3 linked regions of the Homo sapiens genome follow. The protein of the gene in region 2 purifies or fractionates together with the protein of the main gene of each other region. This does not show direct contact. Each region holds a gene or a part of one and is shown on either strand. Other genes may lie near its edges.

The links.
Region 1: the proteins of ICOSLG (region 2) and CLCN3 purify together in Homo sapiens (affinity purification with mass spectrometry; one large-scale study listed by BioGRID and IntAct). This does not show direct contact.
Region 3: the proteins of ICOSLG (region 2) and MAN1B1 purify together in Homo sapiens (affinity purification with mass spectrometry; one large-scale study listed by BioGRID and IntAct). This does not show direct contact.

What each region holds. Positions count from the first base shown.
Region 1 is NC_000004.12:169,623,431-169,627,080, reverse strand, and holds part of CLCN3 (H(+)/Cl(-) exchange transporter 3), read right to left. Parts: intron 1-3,650.
Region 2 is NC_000021.9:44,223,868-44,227,517, forward strand, and holds part of ICOSLG (ICOS ligand isoform a precursor), read right to left. Parts: 3' UTR 1-3,650. UniProt on the Homo sapiens protein: Ligand for the T-cell-specific cell surface receptor ICOS. Acts as a costimulatory signal for T-cell proliferation and cytokine secretion. Also induces B-cell proliferation and differentiation into plasma cells.
Region 3 is NC_000009.12:137,106,705-137,109,704, forward strand, and holds the end of MAN1B1 (endoplasmic reticulum mannosyl-oligosaccharide 1,2-alpha-mannosidase), read left to right. Parts: coding exon 1-105; intron 106-545; coding exon 546-743; intron 744-826; coding exon 827-958; coding exon of another isoform or gene 959-1,258; exon of another isoform or gene 1,259-1,674; intron 1,675-1,683; coding exon 1,684-1,887; 3' UTR 1,888-2,479; downstream 2,480-3,000. UniProt on the Homo sapiens protein: Involved in glycoprotein quality control targeting of misfolded glycoproteins for degradation.

The sequences.
Region 1 (3,650 bases), on a different chromosome or scaffold from region 2:
AGAGAAATCACATGATCAGACATGAATTTTAGTAAGCCAACACTAGCAGCAGTGTGAAAGCCAGATAAGAAGGGTAAGAGACTGAAGGACTACAGATAGAGAAGCTGGAGATGAGACTAGACGTCTGAACAATTCTAAACGTAAGATAGGGCATAACTGAATTAAGAGTGATATGATATATATTGGTTTTCATCCATGGTTCCTGGTTTATAAGTCCCACAGCTCTTATTACATTCTTTTTTAATATTAAATTTAATTTTATATAAGTAGAGACAGGATTTCACTATGTTGGCCAGGCTGGTCTCGAACTCCTGGCCTCAAGTGATCCGCCCACATCGGCCTTCCAAAGTGATGGGATTACAGAGGTAAGCCACTGTGCCTGGCCTTACTACAGTCTTTTGTATAATGTTGGGGCACATTAAACCTCAGAAAACAGAATCTCTTCTCTTGCTGACCTTTTCCTGCCCTCCTTTCCACCAACCCAAGGCAGAACTCTAATCTTCCACAGCCTGTCTGACTGTGGGTCATAAGACCTTCCCTTTAGAAGGGAGCTTGCCCCAGACCCTGGAAGAAGGAATGCTGCAGACAGGCAGAAGAAGTTGGACAGGCAGGCCTTGCTGGGTTTCCCCACTGGGTCTATTAGTGCTGTTAGGTCATACTCTTTTTGTCCAATCACATTTCTACACAGTTGTTGACTGTGCCTATGTAATGAAGCCTCCATAAAAACCCAAAAGGAGTGGATTCAGAGAGCTTCTGGATAGCTGAACATTGGAGGCTCCTGGAAGGTGGCGCACCATGGGAAGGCATGGAAGCTCCATGCTCTTTCCCCTATCTCCCCCTATGCATCTGTTCATCTGTATCCTTTGAACATCCTTTATAATAAACCGGTAAGTGTTTCTCTGAGTTCTGTGAGCTGCTCTAGCACATTAATTGAACCCAAGGACGTAAGGAGTGGGGGGGTCATGGGATCCCTGATTTATAGCCAGTGTTATCAGAAGCACAGGCAAAATCAAAATAACCTGGGGCTTGCGATTAGCACTGGAAGTGGGGGAAGTCTTTTGGGAACTGCCCTCAACCAGTGGTGTCTGACACTACCTCCAGGTACACCGTATTGGAACCGGGGGGCACCCAGTTGGTATCTGCTGCAGAACTAACTGGTTGGTTGCTGTGGGGGGAGAAACCCCCAAGCATCTGGTCACAGAAGTCTTCTGTGTTAATTATTGTTGTGTTGAGTGAGAGAATTAAAAAATACTTTGGCTGTGATTTTACCCTGCTCACTAAGACACATCAATATTGAGAAGCAGAGAGAGTTTGAAGAAATATTTAAGAGGACCTGGTAATTAATAAGATATAGGGAATGGTAAAGAAGAATCTAAGATATCCACTAAGGTTCCAACTTGATTAACTGAAAACAGTTGGCAGAAACAAATTTCAGTCTCCTGCAACTCACAGAACTCAAGACCAGCGTGTTCTTTCCAACTTTAGGATTATATGTCGAGGCTTTAGTTTCTATTCCAGGTCAGACTATAAAGAAGGTTACCTCCATTACACTGACCTGAGCCCCAAAACTGCAAACACTAAGCAATATGCCACCAGAATTTGGGGAGGGGAGCAAAAATAGGAAAACCATGGAAATGGGTGGCGAAAGGATCCACAGCCTGAGATATGCACACTAATTTTTCATGGTTCCCAACAAAGTTTTGTCTCTCCCATAAAGGAGACTGACTGGGTACAGCTGAGGACCACATCTAATTCCCAAAGGTGTGTCAGTCAACTCTCTGTTAAGCTAAAAAGAAAAGTGGATATAAACTGGGTGAAAGAAGAAAAAGATTGTCAATGTCAGCAACTAGAGAGATGGAACAAAAGTCTCAAGAGCAACGATGGCAGAGAGGTGAAAATCTGAGCTAGCCATTTGTATGTAAGGAGCATTTTCATATAAATATTGTAAAAACTGTGCTAAGTACTAGTCACAGATTGAAACGTGAAAAGAGGCCAGGTGCAGTGGCTCACACCTGTAATTCCAGCACTTTGGGAGGCCGAAGTGGGCAGATCACCTGGGTCAGGAGTTCAAGACCAGCCTGGCCAACATGGGGAAACCCCGTCTCTAATAAAAGCACAAAAATTAGCCGGGCATGGTGGCGGGCACCTGTAATCCCAGCTACTCAGGAGGCTGAGGCAGAAGAATAGCTTGAACCCAGGAGGCAGAGACTGAGGATAGCTGAGATCGCGCCACTGCACTCCAGCCTGGGCAACAAGAGCAAGACTGAGCCTCAAACAAAAGAAAAAAAAATGTGAAAAGGAATTTCAACATAACTTATTCATTTACTAACATTTATAGAATAGCTAACAATGTACCAGAAATTATAATAAATATGAACACAGTTTTTATTGTATTAATGCCATTATATTTGTATAGGCCCTACAGCTTTCAGTAGACTTCAGCATAAATTACATTATACATTTTCCTCAAGAGGGATGCTGTAATAGCTTTCTAAAAATTAGTATGTATTCCAGCCCAGTGCAGTGGCTCATGCCTGTAATCCCAACACTTTGGGATGCCGAGGTGGGCAGATCACATGAGGTCAGGAGTTTGAGACCAGTCTGGCCAACAGGGTGAAACCCTGTCCCTACTAAAAATACAAAAATTGGCTCGGCACGGTGGCTCATGCCTGTAATCCCAGCACTTTGGGTGGCCGAGGCGGGTCGATCACCTCAGGTCAGGAGTTCAAGACCAGCCTGGCCAACATGGTAAAACCTTGTCTCTGCTAAAAAGACAAAAATTAGCCAGGAGTGGTGGCGCGTGCCTGTAATCCCAGCTACTCCAGAGGCTGAGGCATGAGAATCGCTTGAACCCAGGAGGCAGAGGTTGCAGTGAGCAGAGATTGCACCACTACACTCCAGCTGGGGTAACAGAACAAGAGTCTATCTCAAAAAAAAAGTCACTACTATACCATAGGAATTAGTGTGGTCTACTGATTACATTAGCACTGGGCAAGGTTCAGTTTAAATCAAGTTCTCAGAGTACCCAAAGTAAAATCAACATATCTAATCCTTGCTATACTGACCTAATTTTAAACTGATTTTATAGGATTACTTTTCTTTCTTCCAATACAGTGATTCATCTTCTGCATTTAAGGTCGATATTAGAGATATCTAAAAGGATCTATGATGAATGGATAAAGAAAATGTAATATATATACAGAATGGAATACCATACAGCCTTTAAAAGGAAGAAAATTATGTCATTTTCAAAAACGTAGATTAACCCGGAGGACATAATGCTAAGTGAAATAAATAAGACACAAAAAAACAAATACTGCATGATCTCACATATGTGTAAAATCTAAAAAAAAAAGTCAAACTCAGGGAGGCAGAGAGCAGAATGGTGGTCTACAAAGGCTAGGGAGAAGGGGGAAAAAGGAAAGGAGAGAGGTTAGTCAAAGAATACCAAGTTTCAGTTAGAGGAGTAAGTTTTAGAGATCTATTGCATGCCACGGTGACTATAATTAATAATAATGTACTATATACCTCAAAATTGCTAAAAGTTAATTTTAAACGTTCTCACCACAAACAAATGGCAAGTAGGTGATATGATGGACGTGTTAATTTGCTTGATTTAACCTTTCTACAAAATATACATTTATCAAAAC
Region 2 (3,650 bases):
ACCGTGCCCAACTAATTTTTTTCTTTCTTTCTTTCTTTTTTAGTCAGAGTTTCGCTCTTGTTCCCAGGCTGGAGTGCAATGGCGCCATCTTGGCCCACTGCAACCTCTGCCTCCTGGGTTCAAGCAATTCTCCTGCCTCAGCCTCCCGAGTAGCTGGAATTACAGGCATGCACCACCACACCTGGCTAATTTTGTATTTTTAGTAGAGATGGGGTTTCTCCATGTTGGTCAGGTTGGTCTTGAACTCCTGACCTCAGGTGATCTGCCCACCTCAGCCTCCCAAAGTACTGGGATTACAGGTGTGAGCCACCGTGCCTGGCCAATTTTTGTATTTTTAGTGGAGACGGGGTTTTACCATCTCGGCCAGGCTGGTCTTGAACCCCTGATCTCGTGATCCACCCACCTAGGCCTCCTAAAGTGCTGGGATTACAGGCATGAGCCACCGCACCCGGCCTGTTTATTTTGTTTGTTTGTTTAACTCCCCCTGCACCTCCGCCAAAAAAAAAAAAATAAAAGAAAAAGAAAAACTAACCTGTAACTCTGAAGTGTCTGGTAGCCAGGTGCGGTGGCTCGCACCTGTAATCCCAGCACTTTGGGAGGTCGAGGTGGGCAGATCATTTGAGGTCAGGAGTTTGAAACCAGCCTGACCAACATGGTGAAACCCTGTCTCTACTAAAAATACAATTACCTGGGCATGGTGGCGCACACCTGTAATCCCAGCTACTTGGGAGGCTGAGGCAGAATTGCTTGAGTTCGGGAGGCAGATGTTGCAATGAGCAGAGATTGCACTCCAGCCTAGGTGACAGAGCGATACTCTGGCTCAAAAAAAATAAAATAATAAAGTCTCTTGCCTTTGGAGTCGGGCATGAAATCTTAATCCGTGAGTTTTCTACCTGGGCCATGGTGGGCCACTGACCACCTTCGGCCTGGATGAAGGCTGGCCCCCAGAGGGTTGCCAAGCTTTGCCAGTGCTCCCTGGCCTGCGTGGGGCCTGGCTGAGGGCGAGGGCAACAGGAATGCATTGTGTCTGGGGCTGAGCAGGACTTGCGGTGCCTGGGCCCTTTGAGCCTGGTGACTCCTGAGTGTGACTCCTGAGTCTGACCCCATCACCCGTGTGGGCTGACACCAGCACCTTCCACGCTGTGCTTCTGTGTTTGCCGCCGGTCTCCAGGAGTGGCCGCTTCTCCATCAAATAATACTCCAGTCTTCACGCCCATGGCTTCCCCCAGACCCCAGCCCAGCCCGAGAACAAACGCTCCATTTTCCCTCCCTTACAGCTGCGGTGGTTGCCACCACATGGAAGGCCCAGAGGAAGGGAGGTCTGGAGTGGCCTGGAGCTGTGGCCTCCCCAGGCTACGGCCAGACCCACCAGGAGGAAGCCCCTTGCAGGCTCTAAGGTTAACGCCGCCAAACCAAGTCCTGATCCTGAGAGGCTGGCTCAGGATGAGGATGGGCGGTGGTGTCATGCACAGGCACCTGAGGTCCCTGGCTGCTGTGGCACGGAGAGGCCCCCACGGAAGGACTCCGCAGGTGCTGGAGCTCGCTCCCTGCATGGACAGCTGCAGCCTGGGCAGGGATAGGGGAGCAAAGCTGCAGGCCCGGCTCATCATGGAAATTCAGACCGGTGAGCCATGGAAGGACATCGCCAAGTCCATGTAGGGTGAGCTGGGGACAGCATGGGGAGTGGGAGGGGGGACAGTGGGGAGAGGGGAGAGCGGGGTGAGCTGGGTACAGCATGGGGAGGGGGACAGTGGGGAGGGGGGAGAGCGGGGGGAGCCTGGGGACAGCATGGGGAGTGGTGGGGGTGGGGGAAGGTGGAGGGAGGGCAGTGCATGGAGGACAGTGGAAGAGGGAGGCAGTGGTGACAGTGGAGAGGGAAGACAGTGGGGAGGTAGAAGGGAGGAGGGTAGGACAGTCCAGCCCCCATTGGCAGGGGCAGCTGGGGAGAGCAGGCCCCGCCTTTGTGTGCCCCAGGGCCTGGGCCTGCCTGGTTAAGAGTCTGCACACTCCTAGAGCTGGAGCTTCTCAATGTCGCTCTTGGAAGGTGACCCCACACTCCGCTGGGGATAATGCAGGGGGCCCAGGGGTCCTCCCTGGGAAAAGTGTGCTGTGCCCCGCCATAGGGTTCGTGGCAGAAGCCCCTCCCCTGAGCTCAGGCCTCACCTCCGGCCACTGAAGACAAGGAGATGCAGAGAGGAGGCCTCTGGAGTCTTGCCCCTTACCCCTGCACCCCTGCAGCACAGGCAGGGTGTGGTGGCCGTCTTGGAGGCACCCGGGCCTGGACAGCTATTCCAAAGCCATAGCTGCCCTCCCCAGGGTGGGTCGCTTGGTCTTAGGAGCGTCCAAGCTGCAGAGCCCAGTAGACAGAACCTGGATCCAGCGCCTCACTTTACAGGAGGGGAAACTGAGGCACAAGCATGTGCTACCTGGCTCGGGGGCCAGCAGGCAGCCTTTTCCCTTCTGTCACCTGCCCTAGGGATGGACCGCCCCATCTGCCAGCCTTGACTGGAGCCTCCCTGGTGGATGTTTACCGCACACCTACTACGTGCAGGGTGGTGCAGCTGGCGAGAGTCCCCTCTCCTGTTCCACAGACCGGCAAGGTTCCCCTGAGCCCTGGGGCAGGCAGGACCTTTGGCTGGAGGTGGGTGTGCAGGGCAGGGTCTCTGAGGGGAGACCTCAGACTGTGGACTTGCGGGTGGACGCTTCTCTCTGTCGGGGCCTCCCGTGTCCAGAAGATGTTGAACAGCATCTGAGGCTTCCACCCGCTGAAGCCGAGGAACAGCCCCCAGCTGTGACAACCCAAAATGCCTCCAGACCTGGCCCCATGTCCTCCAGGGGGACGGAACAGCCTGGTGTAGGGCAGGGTCCCCTGAGCAGGAGTGGCACCTGTTCCTGCTCATACCACAGACAGCTGAGCTGGCTGTGCCCAAGACTCCCTGCACCCACCAAAGCCACTGGATACAGGCACGATTTGCATCTTACTCTCTTAAGTCAGGTTTCTGGAGATGGCTGTCCCAACACTGGAATCCAGCCTGTCTACAGCAAGGGAGAAAGAGGAAGCTGATGTTGGGCTGAGAGGGGCAGGCGTTACAGGGTAGGTCTCACAAATGCCGACGTGACAGGCAGGGCTTCTGAGGGGGCTTCAGGGACCAGCAGGGAGGCGAGACTCAGGCACTGACCCGCAGAGAGCATGGCCTTGGACGCACAGTGGTGACAGCAGCCTCCAAGTGTCCCCCGTGCCCTCAGGCATGAGGGACAGAAGCTTCTGGGGCCCCTGCCTCTTTCCTGCCCATCCCCTGGTGAAGGAAAATCGCCTCTGATAGGAAAAGCTGGGGCCAGACTCCCTCTCCCTGCATTAGTGTCGCCGTCCTGCCTGTGAGGTCCCCGGGCCCAGGGCACCTCCCGGGACACCCGAGTGGTGATGCACGACCCTCAGTCCTGGGGCTTAGGACCTCTGGGTGCCCCCGCAGGTCCGTCCTGGAGTCACTTCACAGTCACTGCAAATGGGCACCACAGCCCACTTTCCAACGCCCCAACTTTCCACACCCAAGCAGCTCCTTGTCCCTGCCAATCAATGCCCGGTGATGACAACTGTTCTTTTATAAACACCACACATCTTCTAATGCTTTCATGTTAAAAGCGGGAGTGGA
Region 3 (3,000 bases), on a different chromosome or scaffold from region 2:
GTGGAAGCCATCGAGGGTGTCAGAACGCACCTGCTGCGGCACTCCGAGCCCAGTAAGCTCACCTTTGTGGGGGAGCTTGCCCACGGCCGCTTCAGTGCCAAGATGGTGAGTGTGTCTGCGGGGCCTTCCGGCCGCCGCCCCTTTTACCTTGGCTTCCAAGGTGCCTGAGTCATGATGTCAAAAAGAACGAAATCCTGGCCATGGCGCCCACGTGGAGGCCCTGGGTGGACCGTGGCTGCCTGGCCAGGCCTGTCTTGGCAACAGGGCAGTAAGGCCTTGTGTGGCACCTGGGGTGGGCAGGGCTTCCCCAGGGCAGCTCCCTCCCCGTGCCCGGTGTGTAGCAGGTCCTCGGGCGGTGTGTGGGGGCCGGGTTGGAGGGCCTGGTCCAGGCAGCTCCGCTGTTCCATGCCAAGTGCCCTCGCGTGGCCTCCCCTCCCAGGGTACCAGGGCCGAGGCAGCGCTGGGCTCCCACGTTGGCTGCCCGTGCAGCTGCAGGCTGAGGGCAGGGCCTGGGATCTGGGGCTGAAGAGACCCTCTGATTCCAGGACCACCTGGTGTGCTTCCTGCCAGGGACGCTGGCTCTGGGCGTCTACCACGGCCTGCCCGCCAGCCACATGGAGCTGGCCCAGGAGCTCATGGAGACTTGTTACCAGATGAACCGGCAGATGGAGACGGGGCTGAGTCCCGAGATCGTGCACTTCAACCTTTACCCCCAGCCGGGCCGTCGGGACGTGGAGGTCAAGGTGGGCCTGGGCCTGGGTCAGGGTCCATCAGGAGGAGGGTGCTGGCAGGGCTGGCCTTGCCCTGAGCTCTGCTCCGCCCACAGCCAGCAGACAGGCACAACCTGCTGCGGCCAGAGACCGTGGAGAGCCTGTTCTACCTGTACCGCGTCACAGGGGACCGCAAATACCAGGACTGGGGCTGGGAGATTCTGCAGAGCTTCAGCCGATTCACACGGGTGAGCACCTGTCCTCGCCCCGCGTGGTCACGGCCACCGGGCCACAGGCACGGCTGGGCTGTGGGGCTCAGGCTGGCTCCGCTCTTGGTGGTGGCTGTGACCTGGATCCGGGAGGGGCGGGCTTGCCGCAGCCTCGGGGTGGCCACACTGCAGCTTGGGGGCCCTGGCATCCCCATCCCCACTGAGCTTCATGGTTGTGGGACCCAGAGTACTTGGAGGGGCTGGGCACCCCTCATTTTCATTTCTCAGGGCCTGTCTAGGGAGGGTCTCTGCTGTGGGCCCAGCATCCCCCCAGTTTAGGAGGCACACGCACCCATGACTGGGGCACCATCCCCACTGTGGACCAGGCCCTGTTTTAGGTCACGCCCTCCACGCCAGAGTGTCACTTCCTGGCTCTGCTGTGATCTTGGCCTGAGGCCCCCGCTGCCTCCGCTCCCACCGTCTGCCCTGTGCCCTGTGCCCTGTGCGGCAACTGTGAGGCCCCCTGAGCCCAGGTTCTGGGGGAGGCGGTTTCTGTCGTGGTCACTTGAGGGTTGTTGGCATTTCCAGGTGGGCTCCGGTGGAACCACACGGCTCGCCTGGGGGTGGCCATCATCCAGGCGCCCTCCACCCTGAGCTTGCGCTGGGGGCCACATTCACCATGGGGTGGAGAGCGCTTCGGTGATGAGGCTGAGGGGGGTGCAGGGTGCCCCCCGTGTGGTGACGAGGCCCTGGCTGCTGCACAGGTCCCCTCGGGTGGCTATTCTTCCATCAACAATGTCCAGGATCCTCAGAAGCCCGAGCCTAGGGACAAGATGGAGAGCTTCTTCCTGGGGGAGACGCTCAAGTATCTGTTCTTGCTCTTCTCCGATGACCCAAACCTGCTCAGCCTGGATGCCTACGTGTTCAACACCGAAGCCCACCCTCTGCCTATCTGGACCCCTGCCTAGGGTGGATGGCTGCTGGTGTGGGGACTTCGGGTGGGCAGAGGCACCTTGCTGGGTCTGTGGCATTTTCCAAGGGCCCACGTAGCACCGGCAACCGCCAAGTGGCCCAGGCTCTGAACTGGCTCTGGGCTCCTCCTCGTCTCTGCTTTAATCAGGACACCGTGAGGACAAGTGAGGCCGTCAGTCTTGGTGTGATGCGGGGTGGGCTGGGCCGCTGGAGCCTCCGCCTGCTTCCTCCAGAAGACACGAATCATGACTCACGATTGCTGAAGCCTGAGCAGGTCTCTGTGGGCCGACCAGAGGGGGGCTTCGAGGTGGTCCCTGGTACTGGGGTGACCGAGTGGACAGCCCAGGGTGCAGCTCTGCCCGGGCTCGTGAAGCCTCAGATGTCCCCAATCCAAGGGTCTGGAGGGGCTGCCGTGACTCCAGAGGCCTGAGGCTCCAGGGCTGGCTCTGGTGTTTACAAGCTGGACTCAGGGATCCTCCTGGCCGCCCCGCAGGGGGCTTGGAGGGCTGGACGGCAAGTCCGTCTAGCTCACGGGCCCCTCCAGTGGAATGGGTCTTTTCGGTGGAGATAAAAGTTGATTTGCTCTAACCGCGATGTCGCCTGTGTCTTTAGGGATCTCCATGACTGGAAAGTCTGGGCGGACGTTGGGGAGAAGGTATTCTTCAAGTCACGTCTCAGAATTCGGTTTGCTGAGACTGGACTCTAGCTGTCCCCTGCTGGTGGGCAGGGAGAGGCCACGGGGAAGCTCCGTGTCCCTGGCCCCACGGGGCAGATGCTTGGCGGGAGGCATCCTTGCGCCTGCGTTTCACACAGGGCCTGTTTCCCTGCAGGGCTGGCACTGAGGCGCACAGCTGAGGGATACACGGGCCCTCAGGTCAGGCAGCTCCCAGCAGCCTGGCATGGCTATGGCCCCGAGCCCTGGGCTGTGGTGGCAGAGTTGTCCTCATCATCACTCTACTGCTGTCCCTATCCCAGGGCTGACCCTGGGCCTTGGCTGGGTTCCCCCCGACCCTGAACCAGGTGACCTCTTAGGACCACGCCCCCTCGCTCTCCCCTGTGAAAAATCCATCACCTTCACTTCCGGAAGACTCCCCTTCCCTGGGAAGCCA